Linked DNA regions of Homo sapiens. The protein of the gene in region 2 interacts with the protein of the main gene of each other region in a biochemical or structural test. Each region holds a gene or a part of one and is shown on either strand. Other genes may lie near its edges.

Region 1 (4,700 bases), on a different chromosome or scaffold from region 2:
GTTATCTTGGCTCCCCAGACCCTATCTGTGACAACAAGAGGAGCTGTTACCTGGGTCCCTATAATTTGGAGAACGGACTGGAGTGTCTTTCCCAAAGTCAAATGGGGGAAACTGAGGCAGACAGCAGGGTCAAGGGCCTGCATGGAGTAGAGACACCCACTTCATGTAGACCCCATCCCCCTAGGAACAGAGGAAGGAACTCAAAGGACTTTGACCATCTCAAAAGTATTTGTTCAGACAACCATGCCATAGATACTGACTGAGCACCTACTATGTGCCAGGCACATGAGGCTCAGTCTTGTGTGTTTCCTTCCCTCCTACATCTCCTTCCAGCTGCCGCTCTCCACTCAGAGCTTGGATGACTTCCCCAGCCTTGGGGCCAGCCTCTCTGTCTGAGCTCCTCCAATCTTTCCCACTCTGCAGCCACAGGGACCTTTCTAGAACAGACAAACAACCGTGTCACTCCCAGGCAGGACTTCTGGGCCTCTGGGTCTGATTTAGCTCCTGCCTGTCTGATCCCTCACCCTTTCCAGTCACGTCACAAACTCCAGACAAACAGAACTATTTCTCTGCTCTATAAACCCCAGGTGTAGCCACCTGGTAACAGGTAAAAGTCATATCTCTGCTAGTGCCATTCTCTTTGCCTGAATACTCTTTCCTCTACTTCTGCATTTATTCTTTAAGGTGCGGCTTAAACACTACCTTGACCAAGCCCTCGTGGGTCCTTCCTGGGCCAGTCCTCCTACCCTACGGCATTCTCCCCTGACCCCATCCATTCCACAGCATACATTTACTAAGCGTCGGCCATCCATGCACACCTTGCTAGATGCTCACAAGTCAGGTGTGGGAGCTCCTCCCCGGGGGGCCACAAGGGAAAATCCTTCTTGCCTTCACACGCCTCAGGCTACAGCGAAGCTGGGATTGGAAGCATCTCACTGCTCCAGTGCCCAGCCCAGAGCTGGCACAGGTGAGCTTGCAGAGAGCATTTGCTGGAGGAGGGAGTAAGTGGCAGAGGCCCAGTTGGCACCAGATAAGGCAGGAGGAACCTCCACAGCCCCTTCCCCAGATATAAGGTATCTGGGTTTCACCTGGGGAATCCCAGCCATCCTCACCGGAGCTCATGTGAAACATCCCTCCTGGGGGCATCACACCCTTTTTGTTCAGGCAACCATTCCCTGGTTACCTCCATTTCAAAACAGCCCCACCTTGATCTTACAAAGTGAACCGCCCTGAACTATGACTGCCATTTGCCATTTGTGTCTGGGACCCCTTCCGCGTGCAATTCACCAATCAAGGTGGGTGTCCAGGCTTTCTGGTTCCCATCATTCTTCAAACAGAATGAACTAGAGAAATGTGGAAATGGCCAATTGACTTTTTTCACCCTCTTTGTTAAGAAAATGTTTGGGGCAACGACAACTGGTTAAACATTGATGGCAGCCAACAGTGGCTGTGCCAGGTTCCTGGAAGGTCATCGGTCCTCACGACAGCCCTGGGGGCTTGCCCTCAGGCACCCCAGTATTACAGAGGAGAGAACACAAAGGCTCAGACAGCTAAGGGACCAGGCCAAGGTCACACAGCAGGGGACTGCAGAGCACACCCCGGGCCCCACACAGGCCCGCTCTTAGCCCCGCAGATAACCCAGGCCTGACCTTTCTACCCTTGTTCCCCCAAAAGCCCACCTCGTCACCCTCCTCAGGAGCCCGGGGAGTCCCGACTTACCCTCTGCCCTTGCTCCGGAGCCAAAGTGGCAAAGCTTAAATCCTCAAGCGGTTCTTAGCATCCCAGAACAAAGCTCCCACAGGGTATCTGCCTAACATTTCAGGGGTTCACGGCCCCTCTGCCCCCAGCAGAGGCTCTTGTTTTAGAAGCTGAGCCAGAACAGCCACAGGGCCCACCTCTGCCCTGCCACTTCCCAAGCACCCCGGGGGCACCAGGCCCTGTGTGCAGAGCTGGCCCCAGGACAGGCCACCTGGTGTGGTGGGAAGGGCTTTGGGGCTGGATAGTCCCTGGGTTTAAATCCCAATTGTCTAGATCCCCGACCTAAGCCTCAGTTTCCCCATCTGCAAAACAGAGAGGACAGACAGAGGGAACAGCTGGGGCAGGCTGGAGCAGTGGGTGGCTCGATGAATGCATCTGTGGTTGGTGTTTCCAGGCAAGCGGGGAGTGTGGGAGTCTCTCTCTCCCCCACCCCCACCCCCGCTACCCACCCCCAGGAGCCACCCGCCCCCGGGACGTCCTGAGAGTCCAGGGCAGAACTAGAGGTTAAAGATTTTCATGCCTCTTGGAGGAAACAGCCGTCTCTCCGGGACTCAGTAACCAAGAAGAAGCCTTTGGAAGCTCCAGACTCCAAATTCCCTCCGACATGCTCAGGGGCCAAGGGCAAACCTTAGGTCCCCCGAAATCCCTCTTCCAAGTCTCCTAAGGTGGGCTGCAAGGCTCCGGGCCTTTGGTTCCCTGGCTTGGGGTCTCAGGGAACCGAACCGCCCTCCCCCCAGACCTGCTACCCCAGGCCCCACGTTGGTGCCCATTTCACAGGTGATAAAACCGAGACCCAAAGAGCCGGTGTCCGGCCCAAGGGCACTTAGCTGAGAGGCTGGCGCCTGCGGAACCTGGTGCCTTCCGTCTCCCGCGCCCCTGGCCCGCATTTTGGAGCCTCGGGACCCCCCGGAGCCGGACGGGCCACGGAGATGTCCCCAGGGGCGCGAGGGGACCTCGGCTGAGCCGCCCCTCCCGGGCCCGGGCCCCACTTACCTCCGGGACGGCTGGGCGCCGGCGGCCGGGAGATCCGCGCTTCCTGAATCCCGGCCGGCCCGCCCGGCGCCCGTCCGCCCGCGGGTCCCTCCTCCGCCGGCTCAGGTTCCAGCCGCGCGCCGCCCCCGGCCAGCTCCCCGCCCACCCGCCGGCTCGCGGACCCCGCCGAGCGCAGGCCCTAGAAGGGGCGGCCCCTACTCGCACCCCGCCCGCCCAGCGAGGGCCTCCCCTGCGGGGGAGGTGCAGGGCCAGGGCCTCAGTTTCCTCGCCTGGAAAATGGGTGTCGCGATCCCCGGATAGAGCGGCAGACGGTCTTTGGAGAGGGCTCTAGTTGGAATCGGCTCCGATTCGATCTTGCTCCGTGACTTCGGGCCGCCCTGGGACTGTGTCCTAGTCTCTAAATGGGCGTCCCGGCCCAGTCCTCCACGTGTTTGCTCATTCATTCATTCAGCAGACAATTTCCTCCGAGGCGTTGAAGGAGGTCCCTACCCTCGGGTATGGCCCATAGAGATGGTTCAGGGGTAAATAAATGTGAGCTGCTCTCCTTGGTCTTCACCCAGTGCTTACTGCGAAGCCTGCCTCGGAGTAGGCCATCAATGTTTTGTTGCTGTTGTTTTTGAGACAGGGTCTCACTCTGTTGCCCAGGCTGGAGTGCGGTGGCGTGATCAGGAATCACTGCAGCCTCAACCACCAGCGTTCAAGCAATCCTCCCGTATCAGCCTCCCTAGTAACTGAGACCACAGACGCCTACCACCATGCTTGGCTAATTTTATTTAAATTTTTTGCAGAGATAGGGTCTCACTATGTTGCCTAGGCTGGTCTCAAACTCCAGGCTCAAGCGATCTACCCACCTCGGCCTCCCAAAGTGCTGGGATTAGAGGTCTGAGTCACCGTGCCTGGCTCAATGCGTTTTTGTTTATTTTTTTTATTATTATTATTATTTTTGATACATGTTCTCCCTTTGTCACCCAGGTTGAAGTGCAGTGGCATGATCACGGCTCACTACAGCCTCAAACTCCTGGCCTCAAGAGATCCTCCCACCTCAGCCTCCTGAGCAGCTGGGAGTACAGGCATGCGCCACCACACCCCACTAATTTTTATTTTTTTGTAGAAGGGGGGGTGGGGGAGGGCAGCCGGTCTACAACTCCTGGCCTCAAGTGATCCTCCCACTTCAGTCTCCCAAAGCACTGAGAGTATAGGCATGAGCCACCACACCTACCCATGTATTTTCTTTTATCAGATAACAAAGGTGGGCCCCAACACATAGCCATACCCTCTACCCAGCACTGAGTCCACTTGAATACCTCCACAGGATGGGCAGCTCACTTCCTCCAGGGTGGTTGGAAAGCCTAGCAGGCCCACAGCTTGGCTCTGTGACTCTCTAACCCAGCAGCCCTATGCAAGTCCCTTCACCTTTGTGCCTCAGTGCCTCTACATCCCCCTGTAGAGTGGGGCATACAAAAGTCCTCACCTCACAGTCGCAGTGAAGATGCTGGGAGCATCCAGGCTGTGCAGAGCCCTTTTTTTTTTTTTTTTGAGACAGAGTCTTACTCTGTCGCCCAGGCTGGAGTTCAGGGGTGTGATCTCAGCTCACTGCAACCTCTGCCTCCTGAGTTCAAGCGATTCTCCTGCCTCAGCCTCCTGGGGGCTGGGATTACAGGCATGCGCCACCACGCCAGGCTAATTTTTTGTATTTTTAGTAGAGACAGGGTTTCACCATGTTGGCCAGGCTGGTCTTGAACCCCTGACCTCAGTTGATCCACCCACTTTGGCCTCCCAAAGTGCTGGGATTACAGGTGTGAGCCGCCGTGCCCGGCCCAGAGCCATGCCATTTTCATCATTAGTGTTTTCACTAAATTGAGCTGACTCAGGGACTGTGGGGTAGCTCCTTCCTCCTCAGCTTGAAAATAGCAGCATCTCTCCTGAGGTCCAACAGCTGGAAAGTGAAA
Region 2 (4,636 bases):
AGCCTCCCCAGCCCCCTCCCCCAGCAGGCGTCCTCCAGGGCCTCCAAGGAGCCACCAGGCCCGTGCTTCCCGTCTCCCTGTCTCCCTGATGAGGGTGAGGTGCCTGTTGGCAGCCTACACACCTAAGCAGGCTGGGTCTCAGGGAGGGAGGAGAGCTACTCCACATGGGGCCTGTTTAGGAGCCTGGGGACTGTGAACCAGCCAGTCGCCCCCATGTCACTGGGCCATGCGGTGTTCTCCTTGCCCAACCCTCTGGCTGGCCTAGGTGGTGAGAAGTCTGCCATGCTTCCTAGAGCGGGGCTCTCTTATCTGCATCTCCTGTCTAGCCCAGAGCAGCAACAGTCCCCAATGCGCCCAGCACTGTGACCAGAGAGCCCCACTGGTCTCCTATTGCTTGTTTGACAGACCTTCCTCGTTCGCAAGTTCTGGAGTCAGAATCCACAGGGAGAAGTATTCCTCAGCCCTGCTCCCCTTAGGAAGGCTCTGTGACCCAGGGAGTCTCAGGTGCCCCCAGCCACCGACAAGCCCAGGGCAGGGATGGCAGGGTCCCCAGTAGCACTGGTTTGTCAGGGTGGGGTTGGGTGGGTTGGGCTCTATTTTCTCCTGCTTGCTGCTTTTCCCATGCAAAACACTCAGTTCTAAAACCTAGTGGCCAGCCCAGCAAACTCCTTGAGGGACCAGGAAGCCCAGCTGTGTCCCTTCTGCTTCTGTCCACAGTGCCAAAAGCCCAGCCCTATGGCCAGAACTCAGCTCTGTGCTCAGGGCTGCTGCACGGCTGCATCTGCTACAGCTGGCTACCCCACAGCCCAGGGGCTCCACCCACACTTTGAGCAGCAGAGTCACCAAGAGTAATTCTAAACTCACAGAACAGTGACAGGGAAGAAGAACTTGCACACTTGGGGACTCCCCACTGTCCCCAGCACCTGGGAGTGAGTTTGAAGGGTAACTAGCCTTGGCCAGCCACCCTGGGCAGCAGACAGAGAGCAAATGGCCAGAATGAACAGGACCTGGAGGGGCCCACTGCCATCCCACAGCCACATCCTCCCCAGCCACTTCTCTGGCCCAGGCCCAGGGCCTTTCAACTGGTGAAGGGTTAATTGGAGGCAGCCTGAGAAGGCAGAGGGCAGGTTCCACTTCCTTTGCTGATGAGTGGCTCTGCCCATTAGCTGCCCCTGCCTGCCCCTCCCCCAGGTGTATTTCCAGACTAGGGATTAACAGTAACTTCTGTGGCTCCCTGAGTGACCCCACTTGGCTTCAGCTTGCTTGCTTGCTTTTTTTTTAAAGATGTGCTGTGGCCTTTGGGCCAGCCACTTGAATGTTATGGGAAAGCCCAGGAGCAGGTGGAAGATTCTGCCCTGGACACTGAAGGGTCCCACTGCGGAGGCACTATCCCATCGTCCCAGGGAAACTTGTCTAGACGCTACTTCACCTCCGTCCCCTAAGGGGGGATGTGACCCCCCTCTTACCTCTGGGCATGACCTTCAGCACATTGCTACCTTCCCTCTCTGCCCTCAATTTTCCTAAGGGAGGTGAGCTCCAGGATCTCTGCAGGGCTTTTGAACTCAGTGTTTTCTGCTAGCTTTGAGCACTTTGGAAGGATGATGTTAGAGAACTTGTGAGAGGAGCTTCTCTTTGAAGGTGTTGAAATGAGCGTGTTTGGATACAGTCCCCTGTTGATGGGCAGGTGGGCAGCCAGGAGGGCATGTTACCTGGCCCGCGGACCATAGTCCCCACTGTCCCAGAGCCTTGGCCAGGCCTGCTGTGCTTGGAACTGTTTCCAAGCCCAGCTCCTCACTGTCTCCATGTTCCCATCTCCAGGGGCAGGCTCCTGCATGGACGGCACTTTACATATAAAAGTATCACAGGTGACATGGCCATCACGTTTGTCTCCACGGGAGTGGAAGGCGCCTTTGCCACTGAGGAGCATCCTTACGCGGCTCATGGACCCTGGTTACAAGTGAGAAGGCCCTTTTTCTTCTCCCTCCTTCCTTTCATAGACTTCCTTGCCCACCCCTCCTCTTCTCCCTTGGCAGCTCTTGATGGCACCCCTTCCTGGGGGGCTGGTCATGAATGCCTCATGGATTCAGGGCCTGGGGCCTGTGTGTAGGTATGGAGTGTGGATGCTGCTACCCACTCCAGCAGCTTAGGAGCACTTCCTGACCTTCTCCCCCTGTCACCTGAGACACAAGTGTTAACTCTCCAGGCCCTGGCTCTTGGTAATTCTGGTTCCCCGTGGAAATCCAGGTTGGAGGGATATAAGACTTTCTGCACCTTGGGTAAACCAAGGTACAAGAACTCAAGGATGAAGCAAGATGGGAGGATGTGTGGAGGCCACTCTCCAATGGCTACATGGAAATCCCACCAGAATTCAGACAGTGGCATGTGTGCCTGGACCAGGGCTGGGCAGGCCTCAGTGGGAAGAGCCTCCCCTTCTTAGCCTACCCCCATCTGACAGCCCTCCCGTTCCTCCTGAGTTTGTGTGACCAGAGACCTGCTGGCTTATCCGGAGCACTTTGTCCTTCCTTTGCTCTTCTGGCTGGAGCGAGCTTCAGAGCTGTTGCCAAGCAGGGTACCAGGGCCTCAGAGCCATAGGCCTCCTTCCAGTCCCCACCCCGTCCCGGGTCTCTAACAGGTGCTCAACCTACTCCACCACACTCCCGAGTGTCTTGGAGGGACAGCATCCTTTTTTGGCATTTGTTTGTTGCGGGTGGGGAGAGGATTGAACCCTTAACCTCACCTCGCTCGCAAGTATCAAGAAAGGGAACCTGACCCTAAACCTAAAGGTGGCCATACCTGGTTTGTGAATGTATTGGAGAGGCATGCAGCATTACAGTAGAGGGGAAGAGAATGATGCTAGGTTTGTGAGTTTCACCCAGTCTGGGGAGTCTGTGAAGCATATGTAGTCAATACAGACACACTTTTTGTCCCTGCATGTCTACAGAATTTCTCCTCCTTCAGGCCAGGCCCCTCTTCTCCCGCCACCACCAAAATACAACCCTTAATTAAAACAAACAGCAAACAAAGGACACCAACCACACTCCCCAGACTAAGCCGAGATAGAAATGGAAGCTAGTGCTTTAGGGATATTGTGTTCCATAAATTATCTTGCCTTTTTCCACTGTTGTTATTATATCGTTTCATAACAAAATTACTTTGAACCATAAAGTTATAAATACATTTTAAAAGTCCCACTTGGTAACATTAGATTTCTGTCCATGTGGTGTTGGTAGTTACTGTAACAAAAGCTCTGAAGTGTAATATTTGAAATTAGCCCAGCACAAGTGGAAAGGGCCTCCCTCCATTCCCTACCCCCAGCCATGTCCCGGGCTGCTGCGTCTGCCCCTGTGGAGAACAGGGAGGGAGCAGGCCTGTCTCCTGGGCGGAGCTGCTGAGGAGGCTGGAGGTAAGGACAAGCCCCTGAGAGTTCACAGGTCATCATTCCCAAGTGTCCTCAGGTAGCGTGTGTGTGTGTGTGTGTGTGTGTGTGTGTGTGTGTGTGTGTGTGTGTAATGTTCAAGCACGTTTTCCTGGGACAGTCGGGACTGGGGCCTCCCCAAACTGCAGAATCTACCCAGTTATGTTTGACATCCTCAGCTCTGAACCTATCCTCGGAGCTCTGCCCTCCCGTCCTGGAACGTCTTTCTGCCCTGAGGAGAGGGTAGTCAGCATCTCCAATTTTCAGCAGCTCAAGAACCTTGGCCCCCACAGGACTTCGCAGATGTCACATTGCCCCTCAGTCCCCTGAATGCCCTTCGGACCCAACCCCAATTCCCCAAGCCCCTGACCCCCTAGCTGCCGGGGTTCCCACTCCCAGTGCCACAACCCCCTCACCTCCCTGGCAGCCCCTCAGCGAGCCTGAGGCCCAGCACCCGCTGGCTCCCCAGCACATGGTCCCCTCCCATGGGCTGTTGCCCAGGGAACCGGGGCGCGGTGGGAACGAGCTGCTGGCCTCGGCATGTTTCAATAAAGTTGCTGTGCTGGGAGCTACTCAATCAAAGGCCTGTGTTATGGGCTCATTAGTGTGGTCCACCACGGGGCCGGCTCACAGGAGAGCTCCTGGGAAGGCTGGCGGAGGCCCCACACCCCAAGCACCCACCCTTGATCACCGAGGGGTTTCTCAGGCCCTTTCCAAGGAGCCCTGGGAAACCCTCTGACCCTGCCCCCAGCCGGATTCTCAGCAGTGGAGCCAACACCCACACCAGCCCTCCTCCCCCTGCCAGGCAGTCAGCACTTTCTCCCTCTGACTGCCAGCCAGCCGCCCCTGTTAGGGTCCTGCCACTGTGGTCACAGGCAGCTCCCTTGCTTGTGGGAACCTGGGCTTGTAATTACTTGTGGGCCTCTAGATCTCCCTCTGGGGCTGGCTGTCTCCCTGGGAGTCTGCAGGACCTCCTAGAGGCCTGGGGTTAGACTTGCAGTCGCCAGTGAGGGCCACTCCACTGGGCCAAGGAGAGCCATAGGTCCCTCAGGAGGGGACCCCAGCACAAAGAGGCCCACCCTTGCTCCCTGCAGGCATCTCTTGCTCGCACCCCCAGGGTTCCGAGGTGTCTTCTTGGGCCTTGTGTGCCCAGGCCTATTGGAGGCAGAGGAGTAGGAAGGAGTGAAATCCAATAGACCCAGGACATGACGAGACCCAGTC

What was found. The genes of interacting proteins can lie anywhere in the genome.
Region 1: the proteins of SUFU (region 2) and TRPV4 interact in a test that uses a peptide from one of them, tested with the Homo sapiens proteins (one large-scale study listed by BioGRID).

Annotation. Positions count from the first base shown.
Region 1 is NC_000012.12:109,830,599-109,835,298, forward strand, and holds the start of TRPV4 (transient receptor potential cation channel subfamily V member 4), read right to left. Parts: upstream 2,801-4,700; 5' UTR 2,752-2,800; exon of another isoform or gene 2,750-2,751; intron 1-2,749. UniProt on the Homo sapiens protein: Non-selective calcium permeant cation channel involved in osmotic sensitivity and mechanosensitivity. Activation by exposure to hypotonicity within the physiological range exhibits an outward rectification.
Region 2 is NC_000010.11:102,615,472-102,620,107, forward strand, and holds part of SUFU (suppressor of fused homolog), read left to right. Parts: intron 1-1,818; coding exon 1,819-1,957; intron 1,958-3,594; coding exon of another isoform or gene 3,595-3,600; exon of another isoform or gene 3,601-3,997; intron 3,998-4,636. UniProt on the Homo sapiens protein: Negative regulator in the hedgehog/smoothened signaling pathway. Down-regulates GLI1-mediated transactivation of target genes. Down-regulates GLI2-mediated transactivation of target genes. Part of a corepressor complex that acts on DNA-bound GLI1.